3 linked regions of the Homo sapiens genome follow. The protein of the gene in region 3 interacts with the protein of the main gene of each other region in a pairwise test. Each region holds a gene or a part of one and is shown on either strand. Other genes may lie near its edges. The genes, in order: TRMT11, CYTH4 and DCDC2.

Region 1 (3,651 bases), about 100 Mb from region 3:
GGAGTCAGTATAAGATTATATGCTGATAACTCCAAAGTCTGTATATTCTGGCCTTCAACTACCTGCTGAATGTCCCCACTGCGTATCTTTTTCTGAAAGTTCTGCAGGTACCTCAAGGTACATCAAGATTGATATATCTTAAATGAATCTAATCTTTTTTCTTAAGCTTGTTTTTCTTCCTGGTTTCTCTGATATTAATCACTGGTGTCATCATCCTAAACTATCATGTCTCCTAAACAAGGAACTTACGAGCTTCTTTAGCCTTCCTTCCACTCCCACTTTAACTTTCATTAGCAATGTCTCCATTTTGCCTCCCTTCCTCATGGTCACAACTGCGGCATTTCCCAAGTTCGCTCTCTTCATTTCTGTTTCATTTATCTGATTCATACTATCTCTACACAGGACTGTTTACTGCTGGAAGAAAGGAACCATATTCTCTTCAACTCTATCTTACTACAAAAATCTTCGTACTTGAAAATATCGAATGAGTGTTTTAAGGCAGTTTTACTTGGAAGTTGACAGAACAAGATAAGTTAGACATCAGTACATTTTACTGTTATGTTGAAATTAAAATAACTATTTACTTGTATACATAAAATTAAGATTTTAAATGAAAGCAAATTTTGAATAAATGTAGGTTTCAGTGAGTTAAAACATTACTTTTCCTAAATGACAGAAAATAAGAATACTCTGTTTAATACTTTCTCTCTTCCTTTTTCTTTCCCTTCAGGAAAGGCTACTAGGAAAAACCAGAAGTGGAGAGGACCAGATGAAAACATTAGGGCCAATCTTCGTCAATATGGTTTAGAGAAGTATTACCTTGATGTCCTGGTTTCAGATGCATCTAAACCTTCCTGGAGGAAGGGCACATATTTTGATGCAATCATTACTGATCGTAAGTTTATTTTTATACAAAAGTAGGAGTAGGATTCGTTTTGTAAAATCATTTACATTTAAAGTACAAAATTTACCAACACATGCACAAAATGCCAACTTGTCAGTATTTCTCCCATCTACCCCCAGCTTCTTCATCTTGTAAGGAGAAAGTTATGAAGGTACTTAACTACCTTGTTAAGGGCTTACTGTTTTGTTTTTTTAAACAAATATATTGGCTTGCCATCCCCTGTTATATCCTTTTATATTAACTTGTCACCCGTTTTTCCCTTCAGCTTATTTTTTTGAGGCATATATTTAGTATTTGTTTTTGTATTGACTATAATTGGTTATTATACCAACTGGAGCTCACATGTCATTTGCAATTATGGTGTCAAATTTTGAACAGAGTTTCAGATATCACACATTTCTCTATGTGTAAGCATTTGTGTTTTTGTAGTGCCTGTTTTCACTGGCATCTCCTTTCTAGCATTACAAGAAATTTGGGGTTCTGTGGAACCACTGGGCCTGTGAACCTACTGAGCTTCAGGAATGTGCATGAAAATTTATTTTCCCATGCCTCATGAGGTCGTGAGTTTTTTAGGCAGCCTATCTAAGAATAGATCTGCCTTTTCTATAGTATTTGACAGTAAATCTGTAAAAAGTGGCAAAGTTCAGCCCTTCTATCTCAGCTCTCTTTAGTTCTTTACTAACTTAGATTTTGTCAAATGTAATGTAACAAAAGAAAAATTATCAAGGCCTTATGGTTTCAGTGTGAATATACTTTATGAAAATTTAGTTTTTTTTAAATTAACAGTTTGCTTTATTATTTGCTCTCCCACTCTGTGTTTACTTATATAAAATACATTTTTTTTTTCCGATCAACTTGAGAGTAAGTGGTATACATTGTGGCCTTTTACTCCTATACTTCAGTGTGTATTTACTAAGAATAAAGATAGTCTCTTAGCAAAAATACAGTTATCAAGTTCAGTAAATTGATAAAATACTTTCATCTACAGTTTGCCATTCAGTTTTGTCAACTGACTCAGTAATAGCTTTTATGGCATATATTCTCCCTCTAGGACAGGATCTACTCTAGAGTCAGGTATTGCATTTCGTAATGATATCTTTTAGGCCTCCTTTAATTTGTAACACTTCCACAGCTTTTCTCAATGACTTTTATGACATTGACATATTTTAAGAAGACAGTTGCTCCTCTCCCAAGTCTTTATGTTGTACATTTTCAGTTGGATTTGTGCATTGGTGATGTTGTGTTCTTCTCAGGGTGTCACATTTGAAGGCAGCATGGCTGTTTGCCCTTGATCCATGATTTGGTGACTTTTGACTATCTGTGTTACCTTTGTTTTCTGTCTAGCTCCATATGGTATCAGAGAATCTACAAGAAGAACAGGTTCACAGAAGGAGATACCAAAGGGGATAGAAAAATGGGAAAAATGGTAAGTGAAATTTAAATATGATGTGTTACTACCTTGAGAAGAGGCATGTGGCTTCCCCGTTAACTTAGCACTCTTAAAATTTTTCACTGATTTTGAAATTTTCTTTTCTTTGTGTAGTCCAGAAAGCCATGTTCCTGTTTCCTTGAGTTATCATCTGAGTGATATGTTTCTTGACCTGTTAAACTTCGCAGCTGAGACCCTCGTTTTAGGTGGAAGACTAGTCTATTGGTTACCGGTGTATACGCCAGAGTATGTAATCTTAATTTTATTTTTAATTTCATTTTTCTTACAATGTTTGCGTATCTAGTATAATTTTCTCTTTATCTCTTCTTGCATTTGGTGCATCTTTATATTTAATTTGTAATAGCCTTTGTTTGCCTTCAAATGTGTATAAAATAGTCTTTTTATTTATTTAGTTTTTTGAGACAAGGTCTTGCTCTGTCACCCAGGCTGGAGTGCAGTAGTGCAATCGTGACTCACTGCAGCGTTGACCTCCCAGGCTCAAGTGATCCTCCCACCTCAACCTCCTGAGTAGCTGGGACTACAGGCATGCGTCACCATGCTCAGCTATTTTTTATTTTTATTTTTTGTAGAGGTGGAGTCTCACTATGTTGCCCAGGTTGGTTTTAAACTTCTAGGCTCAAGCAGTCTACCTGCCTCAGCCTCCTGAAGTGTTGTGATTATAAGAGTGAGCCACTGTACTCAGCCTCCTTCTTTTCATCAACTGAATTGTTTTGACCTTGTTATTTTATATCAGGGGTTGGCAAACCACGGCCTATGGGCCAGATATGGTCCTCAGCCTGTGTTTATAAGGTTCTTGAGCTAGGACTAGTTTTTAGATTTTTGAAGTGTTGTTAAAAAATATCCACACAAAATAATGTGTGACAGAAACATACAGTATGTGACCCACAAAATCTAAAATATTTACTCTCTGGCCCTTTATAGAAAAAGTTTTGCCAGCCCTTATTGTACCCTACACTTAGCTTAGTACCTATGGATCACAGCTGTTTTATAGCTCTTTTGCCAGTCTATAGATGTAATTTTCAACAGCTTAGCTAAAGGATTCACGCTTCTGCTACCTTCTAATGCTAGCTTTAATATATATTGGCTATTATGATTATCTTAAGTACAATAAATCAAAAGCTAAGACCAAAATAAGAGCTGTGCATATATTTAAAGCCCTGATTATGTTCAGCATTATTGCTTTGAGTTTTGTTATTCAGTAACTATTAAATATAAAGCTATATATATTAACAGTAAAAGACAAGACGTTTGAACAAGATGGAATGTTTAAATTTGAAAGGTATTGCCAAGCTCAGTA
Region 2 (3,651 bases), on a different chromosome or scaffold from region 3:
TCCAAAAAGTAGGAGAATGACCATAATAAAGTAATAATGATTAGAATGATTAAATATGGGCATGATAGAATTCTAACTAAGAAGGCAGTATTTGCTATTTGCAAGGAACTAGGCCCTTTCCCAGGCGGTCCAGCTCAGCTCTGTGAGGCAGTACTATCATGAAGTCATTCTTGTTCCTTGCCTCCTCTTCTTTGCTCCCAACCCTTTGTTTGTGCTGTCAGCTATGTGGATCGCGACACCCCCAGCCACTGGGGCTGTGCCACCCTTGAGGGCCGGGACCCTGCCCCAGGACTACTCACCTGAGGGCCTGGACGAGGTTGAGGTTGGCGAACTCGTGGCAGTCCACGAAGGCCTGGAGGACCTGCAGGTTGATGGGATCCCTGGGGGAGGAGGCGGAAGGGAGGGTGGGACACACTTGGATACTTGCTGGCACCCACCTCCTGGAGGGGGTTGAGGTGGGGGAGGGAGAGGACAGAGACATCTGTCCTTCTGGGGTCCAGCTGCCATCTGGTGTGTTCACATCTGTCCCACCCATATCACACCCTGAGGGCACACCCTTGTCCTCCCATGCAGGAACACACACCTTCACGGCTCACCAGCGCTGGTCTGGCCTGGGAGGGGAGCCCTGGCTTTGGAGCGGCCTTGCCCTCAGTCCAGGCCTTCCTCATTTCCTGTAACTTCCCACCTGGTGACCTCGCGGAAGCCACTTGACCTTCCCAGCCCCAGCTTCCTCATCTGTACAAGGGAGAGAAGCTGACCTCCCCCATCTCCTCCCTCTCCCCAGCTCCTGAAGCAGGAAGGTGCCCTTCTCACCGTCTGCATCCCCTGCTCACCGCGGGAGGGAGGGGTGTCCTTGGGAGCTGGGGAGAGGGCTGTTGACTCTCTGGTCCAGCTTCACCCCTATCCACTCGCCCACCCCTCAGACCAGTCCTTTGCCCAGAGCGCTCCCACAGATCCCCACCTCCTCGCCCACAATATCCTTCCTCTCTCCTCCCGTCCAGTCTAGATTCTTGAGCCTGTTTCTGACCCCAGGGCCTTTTTACTTGCTACTCCTGGACCGCTCCTCCCCCAGATGTCTGTACTGCTCATGCCCTCACCTCTTTTACGTTTTGGTCAAATGTCACCTTCTCCATGAGACCCTTCCTGTCCACGCTATTCTAAATCACAGCCCCCAACCTATGGTCCCCAGCATGTCTTTCTTTCTTTGTTTTCTTTTCTTTTCTTTTTTTTTTTGAGACGGAGTCTCGTTCTCAATCTGTTGCCCAGGCTGGAGTGCAATGGCGTGATCTTGGCTCACTACAACCTCCGACTCCCAGGCTCAAGCGATTCCCCTGCTTCAGCCTCCTGAGTAACTGGGACTACAGGCACCTGCCACCACATCCGGCTAATTTTTGTATTTTTAGTAGAGACGGGGTTTCACCACGTTGGCTAGGCTGATCTGGAACTCCTGACCTCGCGATCTGCCTGCCTCGGCCTCCCAAAGTGCTGGGATTACAGGCATGAGCCCCGAGCCTGGCCGGTCCCCAGCATTTCTGACTTCCCTTCCCTGCTCGATTTGTATTCCACAGAGCTTATCATTCTCTAACATATTTTACAACTATTGAGACCTGTCTCTCCCACTAGCATGGACTTCCTGAGGACAAGAGTTTTGTCTGTCTTATTCACTGGTGTACACCCAGGGCTTAGGATGGTGCCTGGAACACAGTAGACCCTGAGCAACATTTATTTGTTGAATAAATGACTAAATGAATGAAGGCAGTCAGGCTTTGACTCAGAATCTGGAGGGGATGATCCGTGAGCCCCTCAAGCACTAGGAGTGATGACTTTGCTAACATAATTCATCCTCTCACCTGCACATCCACACACCTGTACACACCTGCACACCTTCATTTCCTGCCTCGCTAAGGCTCCACTCGTTCTTACCTCTCCCCCAGGTAGGTACCAATGGCTGTCTTGTTGAGGCCCTCGCCTTTATACAGGAACCGTGCAATGTCCTGGACGTCAGGGGTCAGCAGCTTGTGCTCAATGAAATACTGGATACCCTGGAGGGGGTACACAGAAGCCGTGAGCAGCTGCTGCATGGAAGCAGGCCTGGGAGGGGGAAGGGAGGAAGGAGCTTCCATGGCCAGAATCCTGGAGCCTGGCATTCTGGTGTTGGCACAGTCTGTTCTGGGAAGTTTTGACCCCTCTTTCATAGGAGCTGCCTTTGGGAGGTGATGAGTTCCCCATCACTGGAGGCATGCAAAGAAAGTCAGCTTTCCTGCCATGAACCAGGTTCATGCCAGGTACTCCCCAGGGTCCCCCTCAGTCTGACATTCTTTGATTATATGCTTCAGTGACTCTAGGAATTTGTGATTCTGAGATTCAATGATTCAGCCATTTCTTTTGTTCCCCTAAAACTCATATTATTTAAAAATAGCGTTTCATTCTTTCACACAAGTAATCTATGTCTATTGTATAAAAGTTAGAAAAACCAGCTCAATCCAAAGGGGAGGAAATTGCCCGGGCCCTACCGCTCGGAGGCAGACAGCTTCCATCGTGGTGACCTTCCTTCCCTTTCTATGTGAAAATGGGCTCAGACCATGCCTGTCACATTTAAATCTGTTTTTCGGATTTGACAATATCACAAGCACCTCTCCTCACCACCAAGGCACTCAGAGTTTGTCATCCTAGTTTTAGGAGTTGGAGGGGTTGGTCTCTGGCTCTCCGTGAAGATTCCTCTGTGTTCCACTGCTGGAAGTTGGGCACAGGCCATGAGGGCCCAGTGACAGGCAGAGGATGCAGAGGACACCCCTGGGTGCTGGGTGGGGTGAGAGTGTGAGCCTGCGGGGGTCTCTGTGGGTAGGAGCAGGAGTCCAAGGGTCTGTAGCCATGAGAGGTGAATGGTTATAACACTTTGGGCCTGTGATGGGGACAGGGAGCCTTCTAAGCCAGAGCGGTAAATTTCCAGGGACCCCAGCTTGGTGCTCTCTGCTGGCCACCTGACCCCACCTCGGTGTGTCTGCCTGCGGTTTCCTTCTGTCTCCGTCCTTTCAGGATGGAAGCCCAGCTGCCACCTGGTGGGGTGAGGCCAGGGGCTTGGGAGTGGTGTGGGGGATCGAGGTAACCCAGCCCTGAGCTGCTGCTCCTACTAGCAGAGGGGTGGGTGGTGGGACCGCAGGACTGGCCCTCCCTGAGCCCAGGGCTGGAAGATGCTTCTGGAGCCTAAGCCCCAGATCCAAGAGCTCCACTGTCCCAAGCCACATTCATGGAGAAGGAAATGGAGGCCCAGAGTGGGGAAGGGACTAGGCCAAGTGCATGGACACCGTGGCCTCCTCCATGCTCCTGGCTCCTCCTGCCCCAAGGCGTGTATGCCTGGGAGTAGACAGGGCGCCCAGCCACAGCTGGCCATGGGGCACTGGACAAGATGCTCAGCTCTGCTGGGCACAGCTTCCTCCTCTGGAAAGGGGTCGTGTCAGCCGAGGGGAGCGAGAGGACACCAGGCAGGTGCTCCCATGCAGCCCCCACACCCTGTGGCCCGGGCCCTCCACAGCCACCTACCTTGGCGGGGTCCATGTTGAACTTCTTGCGCCCAATACACAGCTCCTTCTCCTTCTGGGCCATCCGGCTGTGGACATGAGGACGTCAGCTTGGGCTGCCCCAGGACCCTGA
Region 3 (3,651 bases):
AGATCAAAACCATGGCAAATTTAAACAATTCCCAGTCTTCAGCGTGGTGGGTACGATACAGGATTAGCAGACCTCCTAGAGACCACAATCTAACAGACAACTCTGATGTATATGTTAAAGCCTAATCAGAAGTCTAACAGGAACAAGCCTGCAGTCTGACAAAATCAGATGTGTGGACTTGGTGTAGCAAGTGCCAGCACTTAAAGAATCCATAAAATGACAGTGACAAAGAGGCAGGAGGGTTTGTAGGTTTGTAGGGTTTGGAATCTCATTGAAGGATTCTGAAGAGCTAAGGGAAACAGAGATCAGTTCTAGATTGGTTTCTGTTTTTAAGGTGAAATTAAAAGAATCAGGGATTAACCAGGGGTTGTATGAGATAAGAGAAGTTTATCCAATAAAGATCTCCGTAAAAGATGGGAATAGCAAAGCAAGTCTGAGAGCATCAGCAGTAAGAAAGCAGTCATCACTCAAAGAAGGGATCCTTGTGGCATTTTACAGCCCTGTGCCACCATGGGAGAAACAATGTTTCCTGTTAATTTTATAGTTGGCTTTAAATGTGTCTATCCTCTAAGCCTGGTTAATAGCAAAGCGACCTTTTCCTCTTTTCCATGCAAGCTGATTTTCACTCTTTCTGCTAGAGACTGATTTTGACTCTTACAGATATAATTATTAAATAATACCCTCTTAATCAAGTTGTAGAAAAAGACTTTCTCAAAACTTTGATCTAAGAGAAGCAGGCTAAAAAACAAAAGGGTCTATTATATTTTAAACCATTTCAAACTGGCTGACCCACAACCCTAATCCAATCTGCACTTCCTCAGTCCTCTGAGCACACCTCTAGCACAGCCACCTGCCACTAGATAATCATAGCTAGTTTACTTCTCTGTCTCTTCTCCTACACGCTGAACTCCCAAAGAGCAAGAGCAGTGAAGTATCCATTTTATGCCTAGTGCCTAGCACAGTTCCCAGCCCATCTAAGTGCTCCAAAGTCAAGCTGCCTGCTCTTCCCCTCTCTATATAACATGTACCAAAGCCCCTTACACAGTAAAACAGATTTGTACTCTAAATATCTATTTAAGAATGTCATTAATTCCACCTTGAATGGTTATGGAAAAAAAAGAATGTCATTATTTGAAGGATGTACTACATGGATGAGACATGAGGTGCAGGAATGAAGAGTGAGATCTACAATGCCAGGTCAAAGCAGAAGGACGCTTCCATTTGAAGGGTCCACAAATGGCTTTGCTGCAACATGATAAAGCCAGAAGCACTTGAACTAAATGGCTCAATGCAAACTATATTTACTAAATCGAATCACTTATGATGTAGTACTAGAGATGCTCATCTGTCTTTTCAGCAAGACTATAAATTCCTGGATGTGAGAGGTCATGCATGTCTTAATCATTTTGCTTACTCTGCCCACTGCATTGTATAGGCATTCAATAACATGGAAGCAGAGAGGACAAGGTAGGAAAACAAGAAGAGAGGAAGCAGAAATCACATTCAGTAAAGCAGAAGGGTAGGGGCAAGAGTAAGTGCTGGTAAAGGCATCACACATGCAGAATCAGAGGTCTCCAACTGCATGAGGACAGAGGACTCCCACAGGCTGCTTAAGGTAAAGAGGAAAGAAAGGAGCTGGTAAATCAACTTAGGACTTAGAAGATATAATGAGATGTGAAACTGGACTGAGAGGTGGGACACGAGGAAGCAAAGAGAGGATTGGGAAGTCATAAATACAAGGAGATGAGTTACCACGGTCAGAAGCTAAGAAAACTGTCTTCATTAAACCACCACTGACACAGGGAAAGTGGGAGGAAAAATGAAAATATAGCTATGCAAAATGACTCAGGAGCACAAAAAGAGTACAAGGGCAATCCAGGAGATCTGTTTATTTAGATATTAGTAAAAGCAGGACCTGGGTGTAGAGAGTCAGGGATAGGCTGCTCTGAGCCCATATGGTGCCCTGACTCTGAGGTGGGTGCAAACAACCACAGAGTCACCTTATTCCTCTTTCTTTTATTCTTCTGTTTCTTTATTCCCCCCCTCCACCCCATTACTTCCTGCTGTGCAAAGTGTTCACCAAATAGGACCCTATGCTTCTTTTGGGTTAGGTCCATTACAGTTCTGCCTTTCCCCAAACCCATCATGAGGCCATAAAGAGGAAGAGGAATAGCATTGGCTGTCCTTAAGTATCTCTTCAAAGATGAGCCTCATGGAACAAGCAAGCAGTGACACAAACCACAAAAGCATTTCCAATGTCAAGGTGACACGCACATTCTAGTTAGCATGACCTGAAGTCAATAAGCAGGTGCCATCTTGTCTAAATTATTAACTACGTAAAAGCAACAAATCGTACCCATGGTCTTGGGTGAGCTGCTCTGGAAAAGGAGAAGGAATAACTCCCAGCACTCACTGAAAGGGTGTCCCAGCCACAGTGGGTAGGACCCAGTGCCACACACTCTGCATGACTCCACTGAAATGCAAAGGTCTTTCCGTATAAAATGTACTCGGAATAATTAGAATTAGTATGTTTTAGGCAACCAGAAAAACTGAATTGTGTATACTGGGGTGGTGGCTTTTATTATGCAGGCCCATCACTGAAAACTCAAAATTACCTTAGATTTGAAGGAAATGCCCCCCATTTTGGTGAGTAAGTTATTTTACTCATCCCTCATAATGACACATTTTTGAATTTTTTTGTGCTACTACGGCACTGAAACTCCCCCTTGAAACAACTCTTAACCCTCCAATTTCATGAAGTATTCATGTTCTAAATCCACTTCAAAAATAATTCTCTATTGATCTCCCTTTATATATCATCATACTCCAAAGAATGCTCATCCTTAATAGCACTTAACAAGATGTGCAATCTTTTCTCAACACATTAATGTTGAAAGGAAATACCCACCTAAGATTTTTAAAGATCTATAATTTTTGTGAAATGCCAGTGTTCTACCAAGTCTGTTCTCAAATTTTGAGCATAGATCATCCTCCAACTTATCAACTTGTTGAACTCCAAAAGTTTGACTATAAATCAGTTGTGGGAAAGAGAAAGGTAGTTTCCCATACTAAAAATCACACAGTATAATTAGGTTCTCAGGGCAGCCTGCAAAACCCTTTTCCACTCGTGCTCTACCTAAAACAGCCGTAAAAATACCATAGAATTCAGAGTCAAAGTGATATTTCCAGAAGAAAAATGCTTTCATAGTTCCCTTTTGAGATGCCAAGAACCCAAAAACCTTTCTTTCTGGCAATGAAAGTAGGGGCTGCCTTTGCTTAAAGCAGACTTCGGAGGGTGAAGGTCATGGTGCGAACTTTGGGGAGGAAGGTATCTCCGGACTGGACATGTGAAGTGAGGGAAGTGAACACACTGCTTGTCCAGACCTGGAGGAAACTTTAGGACAGGAGGGCAGAGTGGGAGAGAGGACTCTAGCGAACAAGTGGGAAAGCTGGGCATGAGTGAGTGGAAGATGCGGGAAAGAGCATGGACAAGCAGTTTCTGAACACCTTTTCCCATCTCCTTTGCATTTCACAATTTCTTCTACTTCTCTCTTTCCATCTCCTTTAGAAGGGTTTATGGGTAAGGACTGAGAAGAAATAAAAGGCCACAGCAGGGCAGCAAGAGGAAAGGAGTAAGTGGGAGGGAGTCAC

Evidence for each region.
Region 1: the proteins of DCDC2 (region 3) and TRMT11 interact in binary tests that used the Homo sapiens proteins (3 or more experiments, as listed by UniProt).
Region 2: the proteins of DCDC2 (region 3) and CYTH4 interact in binary tests that used the Homo sapiens proteins (3 or more experiments, as listed by UniProt).

Annotation. Positions count from the first base shown.
Region 1 is NC_000006.12:126,010,523-126,014,173, forward strand, and holds part of TRMT11 (tRNA (guanine(10)-N(2))-methyltransferase TRMT11), read left to right. Parts: exon of another isoform or gene 1-117; intron 118-402; exon of another isoform or gene 403-669; coding exon of another isoform or gene 670-730; coding exon 731-895; intron 896-2,248; coding exon 2,249-2,330; intron 2,331-2,447; coding exon 2,448-2,579; intron 2,580-3,651. UniProt on the Homo sapiens protein: Catalytic subunit of the TRMT11-TRM112 methyltransferase complex, that specifically mediates the S-adenosyl-L-methionine-dependent N(2)-methylation of guanosine nucleotide at position 10 (m2G10) in tRNAs.
Region 2 is NC_000022.11:37,295,955-37,299,605, reverse strand, and holds part of CYTH4 (cytohesin-4), read right to left. Parts: intron 3,608-3,651; coding exon 3,541-3,607; intron 2,043-3,540; coding exon 1,924-2,042; intron 381-1,923; coding exon 300-380; intron 1-299. UniProt on the Homo sapiens protein: Promotes guanine-nucleotide exchange on ARF1 and ARF5. Promotes the activation of ARF factors through replacement of GDP with GTP.
Region 3 is NC_000006.12:24,347,946-24,351,596, forward strand, and holds part of DCDC2 (doublecortin domain-containing protein 2), read right to left. Parts: intron 1-3,651. UniProt on the Homo sapiens protein: Protein that plays a role in the inhibition of canonical Wnt signaling pathway. May be involved in neuronal migration during development of the cerebral neocortex. Involved in the control of ciliogenesis and ciliary length.